2 linked regions of the Homo sapiens genome follow. The protein of the gene in region 2 purifies or fractionates together with the protein of the main gene of each other region. This does not show direct contact. Each region holds a gene or a part of one and is shown on either strand. Other genes may lie near its edges.

Region 1 (7,747 bases), on a different chromosome or scaffold from region 2:
TGACTAGGAATTGGGCTTTGTCATTAGACAGGCCTGGGTTTGAGTTCCAGCTCTGCCTCTTGCTGTGTGGCTTCAGGTAAGTAACCCAGTTCTCCATTTTCCCAAGTGTAAAATGGACATAATGGGATTATTACAAGGATCAGCTGAGAAAATAAATGTGCAACACTTAGTATAGTAAGGTACCAGTGCAGTTGGTAACTTAACATCTCTGTGGCTTTCACCTCAGACAAACTTTGTAATTAAGTAAAGAAAGCCTTTATGGAATGAACAATTGGATTAATATGTTGGAGTTAAGAAGAAATATTTCGGCTGGGCATGGTGGCTCATGCCTATAACCCCAGCACATTGGGAGGCCAAGGTGGGCAGATCACTTGAGGTCAAGAGTTCGAGACCAGCCTGGCCAACATGGCAAAACCTCACCTCCAGTAAAAATACAAAAATTAGCCGGGTGTGGTCGTGTGCGCCTGTAAGCCCAGCTACTCAGGAGGCTGAGGCAGGATAATCACTTGAACTTGGGAGGCTGAGGTTGCAGTGAGCCGAAATCACGCCACTGCACTCCAGCCTGGGTGACAGAGTGAAACTCTGTCTCAAAAAAAAAAAAAAAAAAAGAAGAAGAAGAAGAAATATTTCACATTTTATGTATTCGCAATGTTTAAGAAAATTTGGCCGACTTGAATGACAGCTTTTTTGTAAATCATTTTAAATGTGTAATTGAGTTAGTTTTAGACTTAGGTTTTTGAGTTGAAAGCTTACTAAGTTTACACATGGAATCAGGCCATCTAAGAGAATGTTAGCTTTGTTATGCTTGTATGTTTATTTATAGGAATTACTAAGTTTTGAAAAAGTTTTAAACAATTGAATGAATTAAAAAGAAAATCTAGGCCGGGCACAGTGGTTCACGCCTGTAATCCAAGCAGTTTGGGAGGCAGAGGTGGGTGGATCACCTGAGGTCAGGAGTTCAAGACCAGCCTGGGCAACATGGTGAAATCCCGTCTCTACTAAAAATACAAAAATTAGCTGGGCGCGGTGGTGCGTGCCTGTAATCCCAGCTACTCAGGAGGCTGAGGCAGGAGAATCGCTTGAGCCCAGGAGGCAGAGGTTGCAATGAGCCAAGATTGTGCCATTACACTCCAGCCTGTGCGACAGAGTGAGACTCCGTCTCAAAAAAAAAAAAAAGTTTTGAAAAAGTTTTATACGATTGAATGAACTAAAAAGAAAATCTAGGCCAGGTGCGGTGGCTCATGCCTGTAATCTTAGCACTTTGGGAGGCCGAGGCCAGTGGATCACAAGGTCAGGAGTTTGAGACCAGCCTGGCCAATATAGTGAAACCCCATCTCTAATAAAAAAATATATATATATATAAAATTAGCCAGGTGTGGTGGCGGGTGCCTGTAATTCCAGCCACTTGGGAGGCTGAGGCAGAAGAATCCCTTGAACCCGGGAGGCGGAGGTTGCAGTGAGCTGAGATTGCACCATTGCACTCCAGCCTGGGTGACAAGAGTGAAACTCCATCTCAAAAGAAAAAAAAAAAGAAAATGTAATAGGAAATCTAATATAGACAATATAATAGGCACAATTTATTCTTTATTATTATTTTTTATTTTTATTTATTTATTTTTTTGAGATGGAGTCTCGCTCTATTGCCTAGGCTAGAGTGCAGAGGCATGATCTTGGCTCACTGCAAGCTCCGCCTCCAGGGTTCACGCCATTCTCCTGCCTCAGCCTCCCGAGTAGCTGGAATACAGGTGCCCGCCACCATGCCCGGCTAATTTTTTTTTTTTTTGTGTTTTTAATAGAGCTGGGGTTTCACCGTGTTAGCCTGGATGGTCTCAATATCCTGACCTCGTGATTCGCCCACCTCGGCCTCCGAAAGTGCTAGGATTACAGGCGTGAGCCACCGTGCCCGGCAATTATTATTATTTTTTAAAAGACAGTCTCGCTCCGTCAACCAGGCTGGATTGCAGGAGCACAATCTCGGCTCACTGCAACCTCTGCCTCCTGGGTTCAAGTGATTCTCCTGCCTTAGCCTCCCGAGTAGCTGGGACTACAGGCGTGTGTCACCATACTAAGCTAATTTTTTTGTATTTTAGTAGAGACGGGGGTTTCACCATGTTGGCCAGGCTGCTCTCGAACTCCTGACCTAAGGTGATCCACCCACCTTGACCTCCCAAAGTGCTCGGATTACAGGTGTGAGCCACTGTGCCTGCCCTAGTAGGCATAATTTTAAATATTTGAAGATGTTGAATTAACTGAGTGAGACTTAAAAAAAAATTTTCAGGAAATTTCAGAATGCTCTATGTCCTCGTTGCCATTGCGGCTGCCTTTCTCAAGAATGCCTGGCCTAAGGAGCGGGTGCTGGTCCTGTTCCTCACCATCGGGGGCCTAGCTATAAATCTGACCCCAGTCTGCCCCTATACCATGTACTCCACCAGGATCAACTAGGCCACGCCCCACAACAACCCAGTGCCCCTCCGAGATGATGGGAACATGCTGGACATGCCCAGCCACCCCCAAGGCCCAAGCATGGAGTGGTTGAAGAAACTGCAAGCACTTCCATTGACATGGAGAAGACCATGTCCCCTGTGGCCCCCAATAAAAATGTGACCCCCCCGCCTCCGAAATAAATAAATCATTCAGTTTCTGAAAAGTGTTTGGTAAAATGTGCTAGACTTATAAATAGAATAATACAATTTGTAAAGTGAACTTAAAAGCTTAAGAATGAAATAACTTTTTACTTTGTAGGCTTAATAAATGAAACCCTTGCCCACTTTTCTACAGGGGTGTTTTGTTCTTACAGGTTTTCAAGTATCTTTAATAGTCTGAAGGAAGAGTGAATACATTGAAAATAGCTGGAGCAAAACATCTGGAGTCAGGCTATGATTTGGCATGCTAAATCATGCTGAACTTGGCCCATTATCTTGAAGGGAGGAATAGAAAAAAAAATTTAAAAAGAGAAACACAATTGCATTTGCACTTTAGAGAGAACACCCTGATAACTGTGAGGATCTAGTTGGCAGAAGGGCGACTACAGTGTAATCACAACAGGGATGGAGACAAAAGTAGACATCTCAGAAATAAACACAGATTGGATGTAGGGTGCGAGGCAAGGAGCCTGGGGTGTTCCCACTGGGAATTGAGTACTTCTGTGAATAGAGAATATAGCAGGAGCAGGGTCAGTATTTGACACGTGGGATTTGAAGTGTCTGCCCTATACACAGGTGAAAGTGTTCATTAGCTGAAAATACTGAGGGACTTCCAGACGATCTGGTCTGGTGATACATATCGAGGGGTCCTCAGCAGTTATAGGCGAGTGTAGAAAAGATTACTGAGTAGGCAAAGAATAAACGGAAGAGGGCCGGGCGCGGTGGCTCACACCTGTAATCTCAGCACTTTGGGAAGCAGAAGCGGGTGGATTACCTGAGGTCAGGAGTTCGAGACCAGCCTGATCAACATGGTGAAACCCTGCCTCTACTAAAAATACAAAAAAAGTAGTTGGGCGTGGTGGCGGGCACCTATAATCCCAGCTACTTGGGAGGCTGAGGCGGGAGAGTCGCTTGAACCCGGGAGGCGGAGGTTGCAGTGAGCCGAGATCGCGCCACTGCACTCCAGCCTGAACGACTGAGCAAAACTCCGTCTCAAAAAAAAAAAAAAAAAAAAAATGCCGGGCGCGGTGGCTCACGCCTGTAATCCCAGCACTGTGGGAGGCCGAGGCGGGTGGATCACGAGGTCAGGAGATCGAGACCATCCTGGCTAACACGGTGAAACCCCGTCTCTACTAAAAATACAAAAACTTAGCCGGGCGCGGTGGCGGGTGCCTGTAGACTCAGCTACTCGGGAGGCTGAGGCAGGAGAATGGCGCGAACCCGGGAGGCGGAGCTTGCAGTGAGCCCGGATCGCGCCACTGCACTCCAGCCTGGGCGACAGAGCGAGACTCCGTCTCAAAAAAAAAAGAAAATAAAAAAAAAGAAAGAAAGAAAAGAAAAAAGAATAAACAGAAGAGGGCTGCGGACAGAATACCGTTGAATACCAATATCTGAAGGGCAAGCCACAAGGTGCAGGGGGCAGAGGCATCCCTGATACGGGAAAAGAGTTATTTTAAAAAGAACTTGCAAAGAACAATGTCAAGGGATCCAAAGGTAGGGAATTTGGACAGAGTTCGGCTTTAGCATCCGCATCTCAAATACCTGGGTACCTGGGTAATCTGGTGACTGCTGCCGAATCTAAGAGGACTGAGGCCAGGTTGCCAAACTGCGGAGAGTGGGGTTGGAGGGCTTTCATGGCAGTTTGGGGCCTGCTTGTGTCCAACAAGACAACCTGGGTCACCTCAAAGGGTGTCTTCTCCAAATATTGGTGCAGAGGTTAGCTGGGCCGGCAAGAGAAGGGAGATGACCCACTATTTTGATTTCAGGCAGCAGACACCGGCAGCCTTTCGGTTAGAGTTGCGGATAGGGCAGTGGCCTTGGGGGCGGGGCTATAAACCTGGGCGGGCATTCCCGGCAGGGCAAGCTCAGCGTGAGCCCGATTGGAGGATGGGCTCTACCTTCTTCCTTCCGCCTACGGAGACCATAGCGGGATGCAGGGCGGGGCCGGGCTGAGGGGGCGGAGTTAGGGGCGGGGCACGGTGACTCTGGCCCCGCCTCTTTCCGGCCGCTCAGGGCGGTGTCGCTGGGGCGGTGCCGCTGGGGCGGGGCCTGCGGGGTGGGGCTGACGGCACGGGGCGGGGCCTCGGGGACCCCGGCAAGCCCGCGCACTTGGCAGGAGCTGTAGCTACCGCCGTCCGCGCCTCCAAGGTTTCACGGCTTCCTCAGCAGAGACTCGGGCTCGTCCGCCATGTCCGCCGCAGACGAGGTTGACGGGCTGGGCGTGGCCCGGCCGCACTATGGCTGTGAGTGCGGGGCTCCGCGGCGCGGGGGCTTCGGGCTGGGCTAATTGCAGACGAGGCGCGATTTTCCTGGGGGCTCGGCCGGGCGGGTGGGGCAGGGCGGCTGCCGGCAGCTCGGACCCGGAAGAGCCGTCCCGGTGGGGCGGCGGGCGGCGGGCGGGGAGGCCCCTGGTTCGCGCCCCCTCGGGGTCCGAGGCGGCGGAGAGGACCCCCGAGGCCTCCCGCCTTAGCTGGGGCCGCGGTAGGGGGAGCCCCACCCAGCGCCTCTCGCCGCCCAGGCTCGGCCGAGATTGGGGAAGACGGCCTAGAGTGAGGTGGCAGGATGACCGCGCAGGGCGTGTCCCGGGGATTGGGGGTCTGGGTACGCGGGCTCTGCCCGTTTCGTGGAAAGGCGCTGCCCTAGTGTTGCCTGCGGGGTAGACCCAAGGGATAGACCAGGGTCCAGACCTGTCCGGTCCCAGGCTAGCTACGAGGTGCCGTCCTGGGCAAGTCACTTCAGTTTTCTCGGGCTTAGTTCCCTCCTCAAGATTTCAAAAGTAAAATAGTAATAAAGAAAAAAAAAAGAAGCAGAAAATCCTCTGACTTCCTCATTTTCTGTTGTCGGCCCTGGACGTCATTGAACTGCAGGCAGGATTGGCTAAAGGAGGACCCTTTGGGATTTTGAGGTTTTCGGTTTTATTTTATATTGTGGGAATAATGTTCTTTTTTAAAGGATCAACATTTCACGCATCAACAGTTATACGTGAGGTATTGTGCCACGTTTGTGAAATTAAAGATGAGTAAGATCAGGCCCTGTCTCCAAAGAGCGTTTTAATCAGAGAGTCAGGTGTGCAAGCTAATGATTATAAGGTGCAATAATGATAAAAGATGCTGAACTTACTAGCCATACAGAGTAATGTAGGTAAGGAGAAGGGGCCTGGGGAAGACAGTATGAGCACGGGAGGTGACTTTTTTTTTTTTTTTTTTGGAGACAGGGGGTCTTGCTCTGGTCGCCCAGCCTGGAGTTCAGTGGTGCAATCTCAGCTCACTGCAAACTCCACCTCCCAGGTTCAAGCGATTCTCCTGCAGTCTCCCGAGTACAGGCGTCGGCCACCACACTGGCTAATTTTTGTATTTTTAGTAGAGACAGGGTTTCACTGTGTTGGTCAGGCTGGTCTCAAACTCCTGATCTCAAATGATCCCCACGCCTCGACCTCCCAAAGTGTGAGCCACTGCACCTGGCCTGAAGGTGACATTTGAACAGAGCCTTGAAGAATGCTGTGTAGAAAGTTTGACAGGTGGCCAGGCATAGTGACTCCTGCGTGTAATCCCAGCACTTTGGGAGTCCGAGGTGAGAGGATAGTTTGAGGCCTTGAGTTTGAGACCAGCCTGGGCAGCACAGTGAGACTCCATCTCTTAAAAAAAAAAAAAAAAATTAGCCAGGCGTGGTGGCCCATGCCTGTGGTCCCAGCTGCTTGGGGCTGAGGTAGGAGGATCATTTGAGCCCAGAAAGTCGAGGCTGCAGTAAGCCATGATTGTGCCACTGCACTCGAGCCGGAGTGACAGAACAAGACCCTGTCTCAAAAAAAAAAAAAAAAAAGTTTGATAGGGCATGTGGAACAAGAGACAGGACCTGAGGGAAGAGCATAAACAAAGGTATTGAAAGTAGAGGGATACTGTGTTGGGAACTGAGTGATGTAGACTGCACAGTGGTGGGAGGAAGGGAAGAGGAGAGTTTCCAAAAATAGTTGGGACCAGACTGGGAAAGGCCTTGAATGCCTTCCCAAGGAGTTAGGAATTTATTCCACACCTGGTGCCCATGAAGGAAGCAGATTGCTTCAAGGTTAAGCTCAGGCTTTGGAGACAGACTCTCCAGGTTTGGATTCAGGCCCTGTCACTTATTTGCCATGGGGCTGAGTTCACCCAGCCTCAGTTTCTTCGTCTGTAAAATAGGAGTGATAATCACAGGATTGTTGTGGGGTTTCAATGAGAGAATGCGTGTAAAATGCTTCGTACAATTACTGCCACTTATGTCTCAATAACTGCTGGCTTTGGTCATTAATAAAAGAGGGAAACAATATTATCAGATCTGTATTTAGAAGGAGTTCTGGCAGATAGGGACAGATTTGTGCCAAAATCTCAAGACAGTATTTTTCAAGATTACACTGAAACTTAGTACATATTTATATTATCATACATTTTTAAAAAGGTCAAGATGATTATAGTTGAAACCACATAGTTCTTTTTTTAAGAAAGTCATTGTAGTACACCTGGCTGGCTACACACTCATTAGTTATCCTGACTTTCTAGGTGAGTGGCAGGAAATTGATTCTGTGGCAATCTTTTATCACTCAGGAAGGCTACAGATCCTGGTGTTTACATTCTTTCTTTTATGTTGTAGCTGTCCTGGATAATGAAAGACTTACTGCAGAGGAGATGGATGAAAGGAGACGTCAGAACGTGGCTTATGAGTACCTTTGTCATTTGGAAGAAGCGAAGAGGTAAAGATTGGCTGGCTGGAGAGAAGATTAAGAGAAGGGAACTGATAATAGTGTGAATACAAATAAAGATTGCTTTGAGGCTGAACACAGTGGTCCATGCCTGTAATCCCAACACGTTGGGAGGCCGAGGTGGGGGGGAATCACTTGAACCCAGCTGTTTGAGACCAGATTGGGCAACATAGTGACACCCCATCTCTACAAAAAAATTTTAAAAATTAGCCAGGCATGGTGGTGCATGCCAGTAGTCCTAGCTACTCGGGAGCCTGAGGAGGGAGGATCACTTGAGTCCGGGAGGTCGAGGCAGCAGTGAGCCGTGCTCTCACCACTGTGCTCTAGCCTGGGTGACAAAACTCCTGTTTTTGGTGGGGGGAAAAAAAAGAAAAGA
Region 2 (7,731 bases):
GTGTTTGTGTCTATCTGGAAATATCTCTTCCATTGATTGTGGAACTAATCAGGCACTAGCATCTAACTATTTTAATTGGTAATGCTTTACCAATAGTATGTTTGCTATTTGGTCAGGAGTTTTCAGAAAGTTCTTGGTTATTTTTCTTATTAATTTTTCCATAAGACTTTAGACATGGCTCATAGAGATCCAAAACAAAATCCTGTTTGTTATTTTTCTTGGGATCTCATTCAATGTCTTTTTAAATTTTAATGTATTTTTTGAGTCAGGGTCTCACTCCAAGCCTGGAGTGCAGTGGTGCAATCACAGCTCACTGCAGCCTCAACCTCCTGGGCTCACGCGATTCTCCCACTTCAGCCTCCCAAGTAGCTGGGGCCACAGGCACATGCCACCACACCCGGCTAATTATTTTTGTACTTTTTTTGTAGAGTTGGGATTTTGCCACGTTGGCCAGGCTGTCCTTCAATGTCTTGATCAACTGATATCTTAATGATCTGGATGGAACCTTCCTAGCCAATACCATAACCTGTATTTCTCTTTGTTCAAGTCTTTTTCTGTATTCTTTTGCAGAATTAAACATTTTTTCTTCACACAGATTGTGCATATTTCTTGTAAAGTTTATTTCTAGGTATTTTTATTTTTCCACTGCTTTGTAAATGGGATCTTCCATTATATCTTTTTTCTCTTGTTTTTTCTTTTTTTTTTTTTTTTGAGATGGAGTCTCGCTCTGTTTCCCAGGCTGCAGTGCAGTGACTCGATCTCAGCTCACTGCAAGCTCTGCCTCCTGGGTTCACGCCATTCTCCTGCCTCAGCCTCCCGAGTAGCTGGGACTACAGGTGCCTGCCACCACGCCCAGCTAATTTTTTGTATTTTTAGTAGAGATGGGGTTTCACCATGTTAGCCAGGATGGTCTCGATCTCCTGACCTCATGATCTGCCCTCCTCGGCCTCCCAAAGTGCTGGGATTACAGGCGTGAACCACCGTGCCCAGCCTCATTTTGTTTTTTGAGATGGAGTCTCGCTCTCTTGCCTAGGCTGGAATACAGTGGCGTGATCTCAGCTCACTGAAACCTCTGCCTCCCAGGTTCAAGTGATTCTCCTGCCTCACATGCCCGAGTACCTGGGACTAAAGTTGCATACCACCACGGCTGGCTAATTTCTGTATGTTTAGTAGCGATGGGGTTTCACCATGTTGGCCAGGCTGGTCTCGAACTCCTGACCTCAAGAGATCCGCCTGCCTTGGCCTCCCAAAGTGCTGGGATTACAGGTGTAAGCCACTGCGCCCGGCCCCATTATATTTTTATGTCTTCTAATTGTTGCTCTTAGATTCTGATATATCCCTAGGAGTGCAGGCTACCTCAAATAAGCTTGGGAATTACTTATTTAGGCCAGCAAGTAGTTCTCAACCTTGTTCTCCTGTGCTACACATACCACAGGTGACCCTGACATACACCAATCAACCCTACAGGTGTTCCCTGTTTCTTAGGGACTTGCGCAGAGATAAGCAAGGCTGTAATTTTTCAGCAGTCTACGGAAATTTATCATGTACTATTGTGTCCCTGGCACTGTGTTATGGGCCAGGGACCATCATGACTACTAAGACAGGCTGAGTCTCTGCTGTCATGGAAGTTGATCACTTAGTTCTAGCCTAATAGATATACTCAACAGATAATTGAAAATTATAAGGGTGCAAAGTTCTACTAAGAGGCTATGAGAGTGGAACAGATAATTCATCAGAGGTTAACATTCACACTTGTAATCCCAGCACCTTGGGAGGCCGAGGCGGGTGGATCACCTGAGGCCAGGAGTTCGAGACCAGCCTGGCCAACATGGCGAAACCCCGTCTGTACTAAAAACACAAAAATTACAGGGCATGGTGGCAAGCGCCTGTAGTCTCAGCTACTCGGGAGGCTGAGGCAGGAGAATTGCTTGAGCCCGGGAGGTGGAGGTTGCAGTGAGCCGAGATCGCGCCACTGCACTTTAGCCTGGGTGACTGAGGGAGACTCTGTCTCAAAAAAAAAAAATAATTAAAAATAAAAATAAATGTCTCACAGGGCTTTTATGAGCTTTGCATCAGAGAGCCGAGATCACACCATTGCACTTCAGCTTGGGCAACAGAGTGAGATTCTGTCTCAAAAAAAAAAAAAAAAAATTCAGCATCTCACAGGGCTTTTATGAGTTTTGCATGTTCCCATTCCTTAGTACAGATGCACATAATTTATCTTGTGAGAAGGAACACACATAATTTATCGTAACATACTTAATGCTCACAGTTTCTTGTGAACCAAGAACACACAGCTTCCATCTTTTTCTCAAGGTAAAGAAAAATGATTCCTTAATTACTTAGCAAGACTCAAGAGGTCTTCAGGACCTTGGAAGAGAACTTGACTGATAGTTTCTAGGTACAAACAGAAGAAAACAAATCTAGGTGACCTACTCCTGGTCAGGTATGGTGGCCCACACCTGGAATAATCCCCCCAGTACTTTGGAAGATTGAGGCAAGAGGATTGCTTGAGCCTAGAATTTGAGACCAGCCTGGTCAACTTAGTAACTTAGTAAGACCCTGGGCAACTTAGTAAAACCCTGTCTCTATAAAAAATTAAAAAATTAGCTGGGAGTGGTGGCACATGCCTGTGGTCCCAGCTACTCAGGAGGCTGAGGTAGGAGGATTTCTTGAGCTCAGGAGGTTGAGGCTGCAGTTAGCTGTGCTCATGCCACTGCACTCTAGTTAGGTGACAGAGCGAGACCCTGTCTCAAGAAAAAAACAAAAAAGATGCGGAAGGAGGAAAGAGGGAAGAAAATTGAGACTGGAAGTCATAGACCCACCACTTTTGTCCCTATGGGTGATAGCAAAATCACCTTTGACGAGATTGTCTGATTGTGCGCAGCTTTGGGTTTAGGGAGACCTCTCTGCATCTGCTCCTTTACCCAAGGAGGTATGGGATCCACACTGCTTGGAAGTTAGAAAGAAAAGATCACTTTTAGCAGAGGGCTGGACAATATCTGAATGTTGCTTACTACTGTCTTGGATGGGCACTAAAGGGACGGTGAAAGTCCTTTGACTATTTTTGGTGTTCTGAAATTCAGTGTCATTGCACTTCACAAGAAGCAATGTAAGGAGGCAAGTGTCCTCCCAGGCTTCGCTAAGGCTCCAAAGCCTTGTTTGGAGGGGCCTCTTCAGACACAGCAGCTCGTATTTTGAATTTATATTCCGTTGGCAAGAGAGATTGAGCAATTATTAGATTGAGAGACATTTAAGAAAGAGAGAATTATTTTTAAATAGTGGGGCGGCAGTCCCAGAGTGAGCGGGAGAGAGAAGCTCTGTGCACCTGCAGTTCCTTCATTCATTCTCAGTTTCTTGGACCTCTCACAACGCGAGCATAATTTTCGCTGAGTGTGCAGAAGTTCAAGATTCTTTTTTTTTTTTTTTTTTTTTTTGAGACAGAGTCTCACTCTGTTGCCCAGGTTGGAGTGCAATGGCGTGATCTCGGCTCACTGCAACCTCCGTCTCCCGGGTTCAAGAGATTCTCCTGCCTCAGCCTCCCAAGTAGCTGTGATTACAGGCGCCCACCACTGCATCCGGCTAGTAGAGACGGGGTTTCACCATGTTAGTCAGGCTGGTCTCGAACTCCTGACCTCAGGTGATCCGCCCACCTCGGCCTCCCAAAGTGCCGGGATTACAGGCGTGAGCCACTGCGCCTGGCCAAGATTCTTTACTGGCCACCCTCTCTCCAACCTCCCATACAATACAGCTGCTAAAAACCACTTAGTTTATCTAGGTCTGGGTGAAATAAATAGTAATCTGGCACTTCTCGTCTTTTTTTTTTTTTTTTTTTTTTTTTTTTTTTTTTTTTTTGAGACCAGTGTCTCTTTGTCGCCAAGGCTGGAGTGCAGCGGCGCGATCTCAGCTCACTGCAATCTCCGCCTCCCGGGTTCAAGCGATTCTCCTGCCTCAGCCTCCCGAGTAGCTGTTTACCTACAGGCGCCCGCCACCACGCCCGGCTAATTTTTTGTATTTTCAGTAGAGACGGGGGTTTCACCGTGGTAGCCAGGATGGTCTCGATCTCTTGACCTAGTGATCCGCCCGCCTCGGCCTCCCAAAGTGCCGGGATTAGAGGCCTGAGCCAACGCGCCCGGGCCATTGTCTTTTATCTCACTACACATTTTTCAATTTTATTTATTGTGTATTTTACTTACACAAGAATGTAAGCTCCACGAGGGCAGGGATTTTTGTCAGTTCACCACTACATTCTTAGCTCTTGGAGCAATGCCTTGCATATGGCAAGCATTTAATGAACATTTACAGATGGAGGAAGAAACAACTGCAGGAAGGAGAGAAAGGAAGGCCAGAGGCAGGACAAGAGGAAGAAGCGACAGCAAGGAAGGAAAAAGGAAGTGGAGGAGGAAAGAAGGTAGGCTGGGTTCTCCCAGACCCGCTTCGAGTCCAGCAGGCAGCGCGAAACTCCCACCAGAACTACAACTCCCGGCAGGCCCCGGGACTCAGGACGGGCCGCTGCGGTCCAGGCGGGACAGGGCGCTCCTCCCGCTGGGCCCCCGGCGTGCCTTGCGAGCGCAGGCTCCGCCGCAGTGCCAGCCGGAACTTGTGGTTCGGACCGTGGGTGGGGGTGGGGCCGGGGCCGGGCCTGGAGGCGGGCGGGGGCCGGGGGCGGGCGCCTGCCCCTCCCCCGTCACTTCCTGCCGGGCTGCGGGCGCCTGAGCGGCTCTTCAGCGTTTGCGCCGGCGGCTGCCGCGTCTCTCTCGGCTCCCGCTTCCTTTGACCGCCTCCCCCCCCCGGCCCGGCGGCGCCCGCCTCCTCCACGGCCACTCCGCCTCTTCCCTCCCTTCGTCCCTTCTTCCTCTCCCTTTTTTCCTTCTTCCTTCCCCTCCTCGCCGCCACCGCCCAGGACCGCCGGCCGGGGGACGAGCTCGGAGCAGCAGCCAGGTGAGGCGGCCGGGCCGGGCCGGGCCTGGTGGGGCCCTCGCGGGCGCCGCCGCGGTGGGGAGGTGGGCGGCGGGTGGGGCCTAGGCCTCGGCGGGCCCGCGCACCCCTCCGCCTTCTCCCGGGCCTCTCTCTAGCCCGCGGGGCCTTCCCGGAGGAGGCGGGTCCTCTTGCGTTCCCTCGCCTCGGGGCGCCCTGAGGCCTGGCCCCGGGCGCCCCCATCCCCTCCAGCCCTCACCGGTGCCACAAACAGGTGCTGCGGCCGCCTTTCCTCGTCCCGCATGGCGCGCGCGGGGATGCCGAAGTTATTCCCGGGGCTGGGGCGCAGGCGGGGGGGGGGGGGGGTCCCTGCTTCAGGTCCCCGAGGGCTGGAGCCTCTCAGTGTCGCCGGCCCAGGTCTGTAGCTTAGTGGTTAAGAGCACGGCCCAGGTGTCCAAAACGGGTGCCGAACCCGGCTCTGCCCCGTTAGGCAAGACACTTAAAAAGTCTTTGTGTCTTGGTTGGAAAAGGGGCTGCTAATACCGTCCCTGCCTCTTAAGGTTCAGTGAAATGGGGCGTGTAAAGCGCTTATCAGAGTGCCAGACCCACAGCGTGTCCCAGTAAACCGTCTGCATAATTTATTAGCGTGATATGAAGGTATAATTTAATGGGCAGAGTGGATAGAAGTTGACCTACCTATCCGTTTGGGTTTCTTAGAGGCTGCAGTGTTCCGCGTGCCCATGTCCAGAGCCAGGGCATTGTTTTCAGTTGTTAACATCTGAAAGGGGCGTACGCTTAATTGGGACACTGTAGTTGACAGTCTGTAAACGATGGATGCTGTTTCTTTCCATCTCCGCTTAGGCAACTGCAGGATATTCACCATCTCCCGCAGGATGAGCAACCTGTCCATTTCTCCCCGCCCCGCCATCATCCAGCTTCTTCTTGTCATTCCATTTCTGGGAAAGTTGCTGGCAGAAGCTTCCCTTGAGTTGAGCAAACCTATCTAGAGCACTTGCTGTGTGTTGGGCTCTGAAGGGGGGTGTACGGAGATGGAAAAATTTGTCTGTCTTGTCTTGCTCTACACCTCGATAAGTTTTTTTTCACGGAAGCTTTGCTTATATTCACCCCTCCCTGTTGGCTGACTTTCCTTTTAAGCCCTTGCCCCGCCTCCGTGTTGCAGTATTGCTTGTGTGGAAGTTTTCTTCTGTTCCGCGAAGATACGTGCTTCAGTCTGTTCTGCCACTGTTCTTCGGCTGTGTGGAAGTTTTTAAGGTCACACTTCTCTTCTGCTTGTAGCTTTCATTGTTAAGAGCGTGGTGGAGTTAAATCAGGTTCCCGGTTGATTTTGGCGTTTCAGGAATCCGTGCTTACCAAGTGTAAATTGCATTGCTACTTGTTGAGGTAAAAACTAAAAATACAGTTGGAGTGTAGAGGGAGCAGTTTCGGTTATCCTGGTGACAGGTGGGATTTTTAGAACAGCAACTTTACTAAAACATACTGGGTTTTTAAAAATTCTGTACTTAGTTTTATAGGTGTACTCTAAGGAAATGCAACTTATGGGTGTTCAATTTTATATGAGTAAGGAGTGTGTGTTTACCTGAGTGATCCTCCTGTATCTTAGGATTGTTTTAGGCATTAAATTTCCTTAGTGAACTGAAACTATTTTGATTTATACCCATCTCTTAACACACATGCGGCAAAGTGGCCTCCTTGTTTTTGACATTTTCCTAGAATTTTCTGACAGTCTTACCATTGTTTGTAATTTAAAATGTTTGTTTGAATTTTTTTTTTTTTTTGAGACAGTCTCACGCTGTCGCCCAGGCTGGAGTGCAGTGGCGCGATTTCGGCTCATTTCAACCTCTGCCACCCTGGTTCAAAAGATTCTCCCGTCTCAGCCTCCCGAGTAGCTGGGATTACAGACGCCCGCCACCGCGCCGTGTTAATTTTTGTAGTTTTCGTAGAGACGGGGTTTTGCCATGTTGGCCAGACTGGTCTCGAACTCCTAACCTCGTGATCCACCCTCCTAGGCCTCCATAAGCAGGTTAGGCGCGGTGGCTCACGCCTGTAATCCCAGAACTTTTGGGAGGCCGAGGCGGGTGGATCACGAGGTCAGGAGATGGAGACTATCTCTTGAGCCTGGTGTGGTGGCGGGCGCCTGCAGTCCCAGCTACTCCCGAGGCTGAGACAGGAGAATCGCTTGAACCCGGGAGGTGGAGGTTGCCTGGGCGACAGAGAGAGACTCTCTCCAAAAAAACAAAACAAAAAAAACACATAAGCAAACAACTATACAAGCAGTATAAAGCATGTCTAATACTGCCATATCACAATGGCATATTTCAATAGGGAAATGGTATTTTAAATACCATTTTTTAAAAACCTTTTATTCTGGAAAACATGCGAAACTCGAATAGTATGGAGAACCCCATGTGTTAGTCACTCACTTAGCTTTGACAATTATTAACTCATAGCCAAGGTCGGTTTTGTTTCATGTTGTATCCCCCCACACAAACTAGATTATTTTGAAACAAATCTTAAACATTGTGTCACAACATTAGCGATTTTGACTTTTACCAGATTGCCCCAGATTAAGGTCACAAAATTTACTTTTAGTAGAATAATAGTTCTCATTTTTGTTTGTTGGGCTTCCCTTCTCTGTTTATACATGATTTCTGTACAGCAGAAAAGAAGAAGAAAATTAACTCTTGATCCAATGCCTTCAGCTCCTCAAAATCAAAATACAACCTTGCTGCTTTATTGTGTACAAAAGCAAAAATTCTTGAGCTATTAATGACTATAATTGAAAAGCGAACAAAT

The links. Proteins that work in one complex are often made in the same cells at the same time.
Region 1: the proteins of STAU1 (region 2) and IQGAP1 purify together in Homo sapiens (affinity purification with mass spectrometry; 4 studies listed by BioGRID and IntAct, with this or other methods). This does not show direct contact.

The regions. Positions count from the first base shown.
Region 1 is NC_000015.10:90,383,512-90,391,258, forward strand, and holds the start of IQGAP1 (ras GTPase-activating-like protein IQGAP1), read left to right. Parts: upstream 1-4,730; 5' UTR 4,731-4,830; coding exon 4,831-4,885; intron 4,886-7,262; coding exon 7,263-7,362; intron 7,363-7,747. UniProt on the Homo sapiens protein: Plays a crucial role in regulating the dynamics and assembly of the actin cytoskeleton.
Region 2 is NC_000020.11:49,185,326-49,193,056, reverse strand, and holds the start of STAU1 (double-stranded RNA-binding protein Staufen homolog 1), read left to right. Parts: upstream 1-4,722; 5' UTR 4,723-4,941; intron 4,942-6,095; exon of another isoform or gene 6,096-6,318; intron 6,319-7,731. UniProt on the Homo sapiens protein: Binds double-stranded RNA (regardless of the sequence) and tubulin.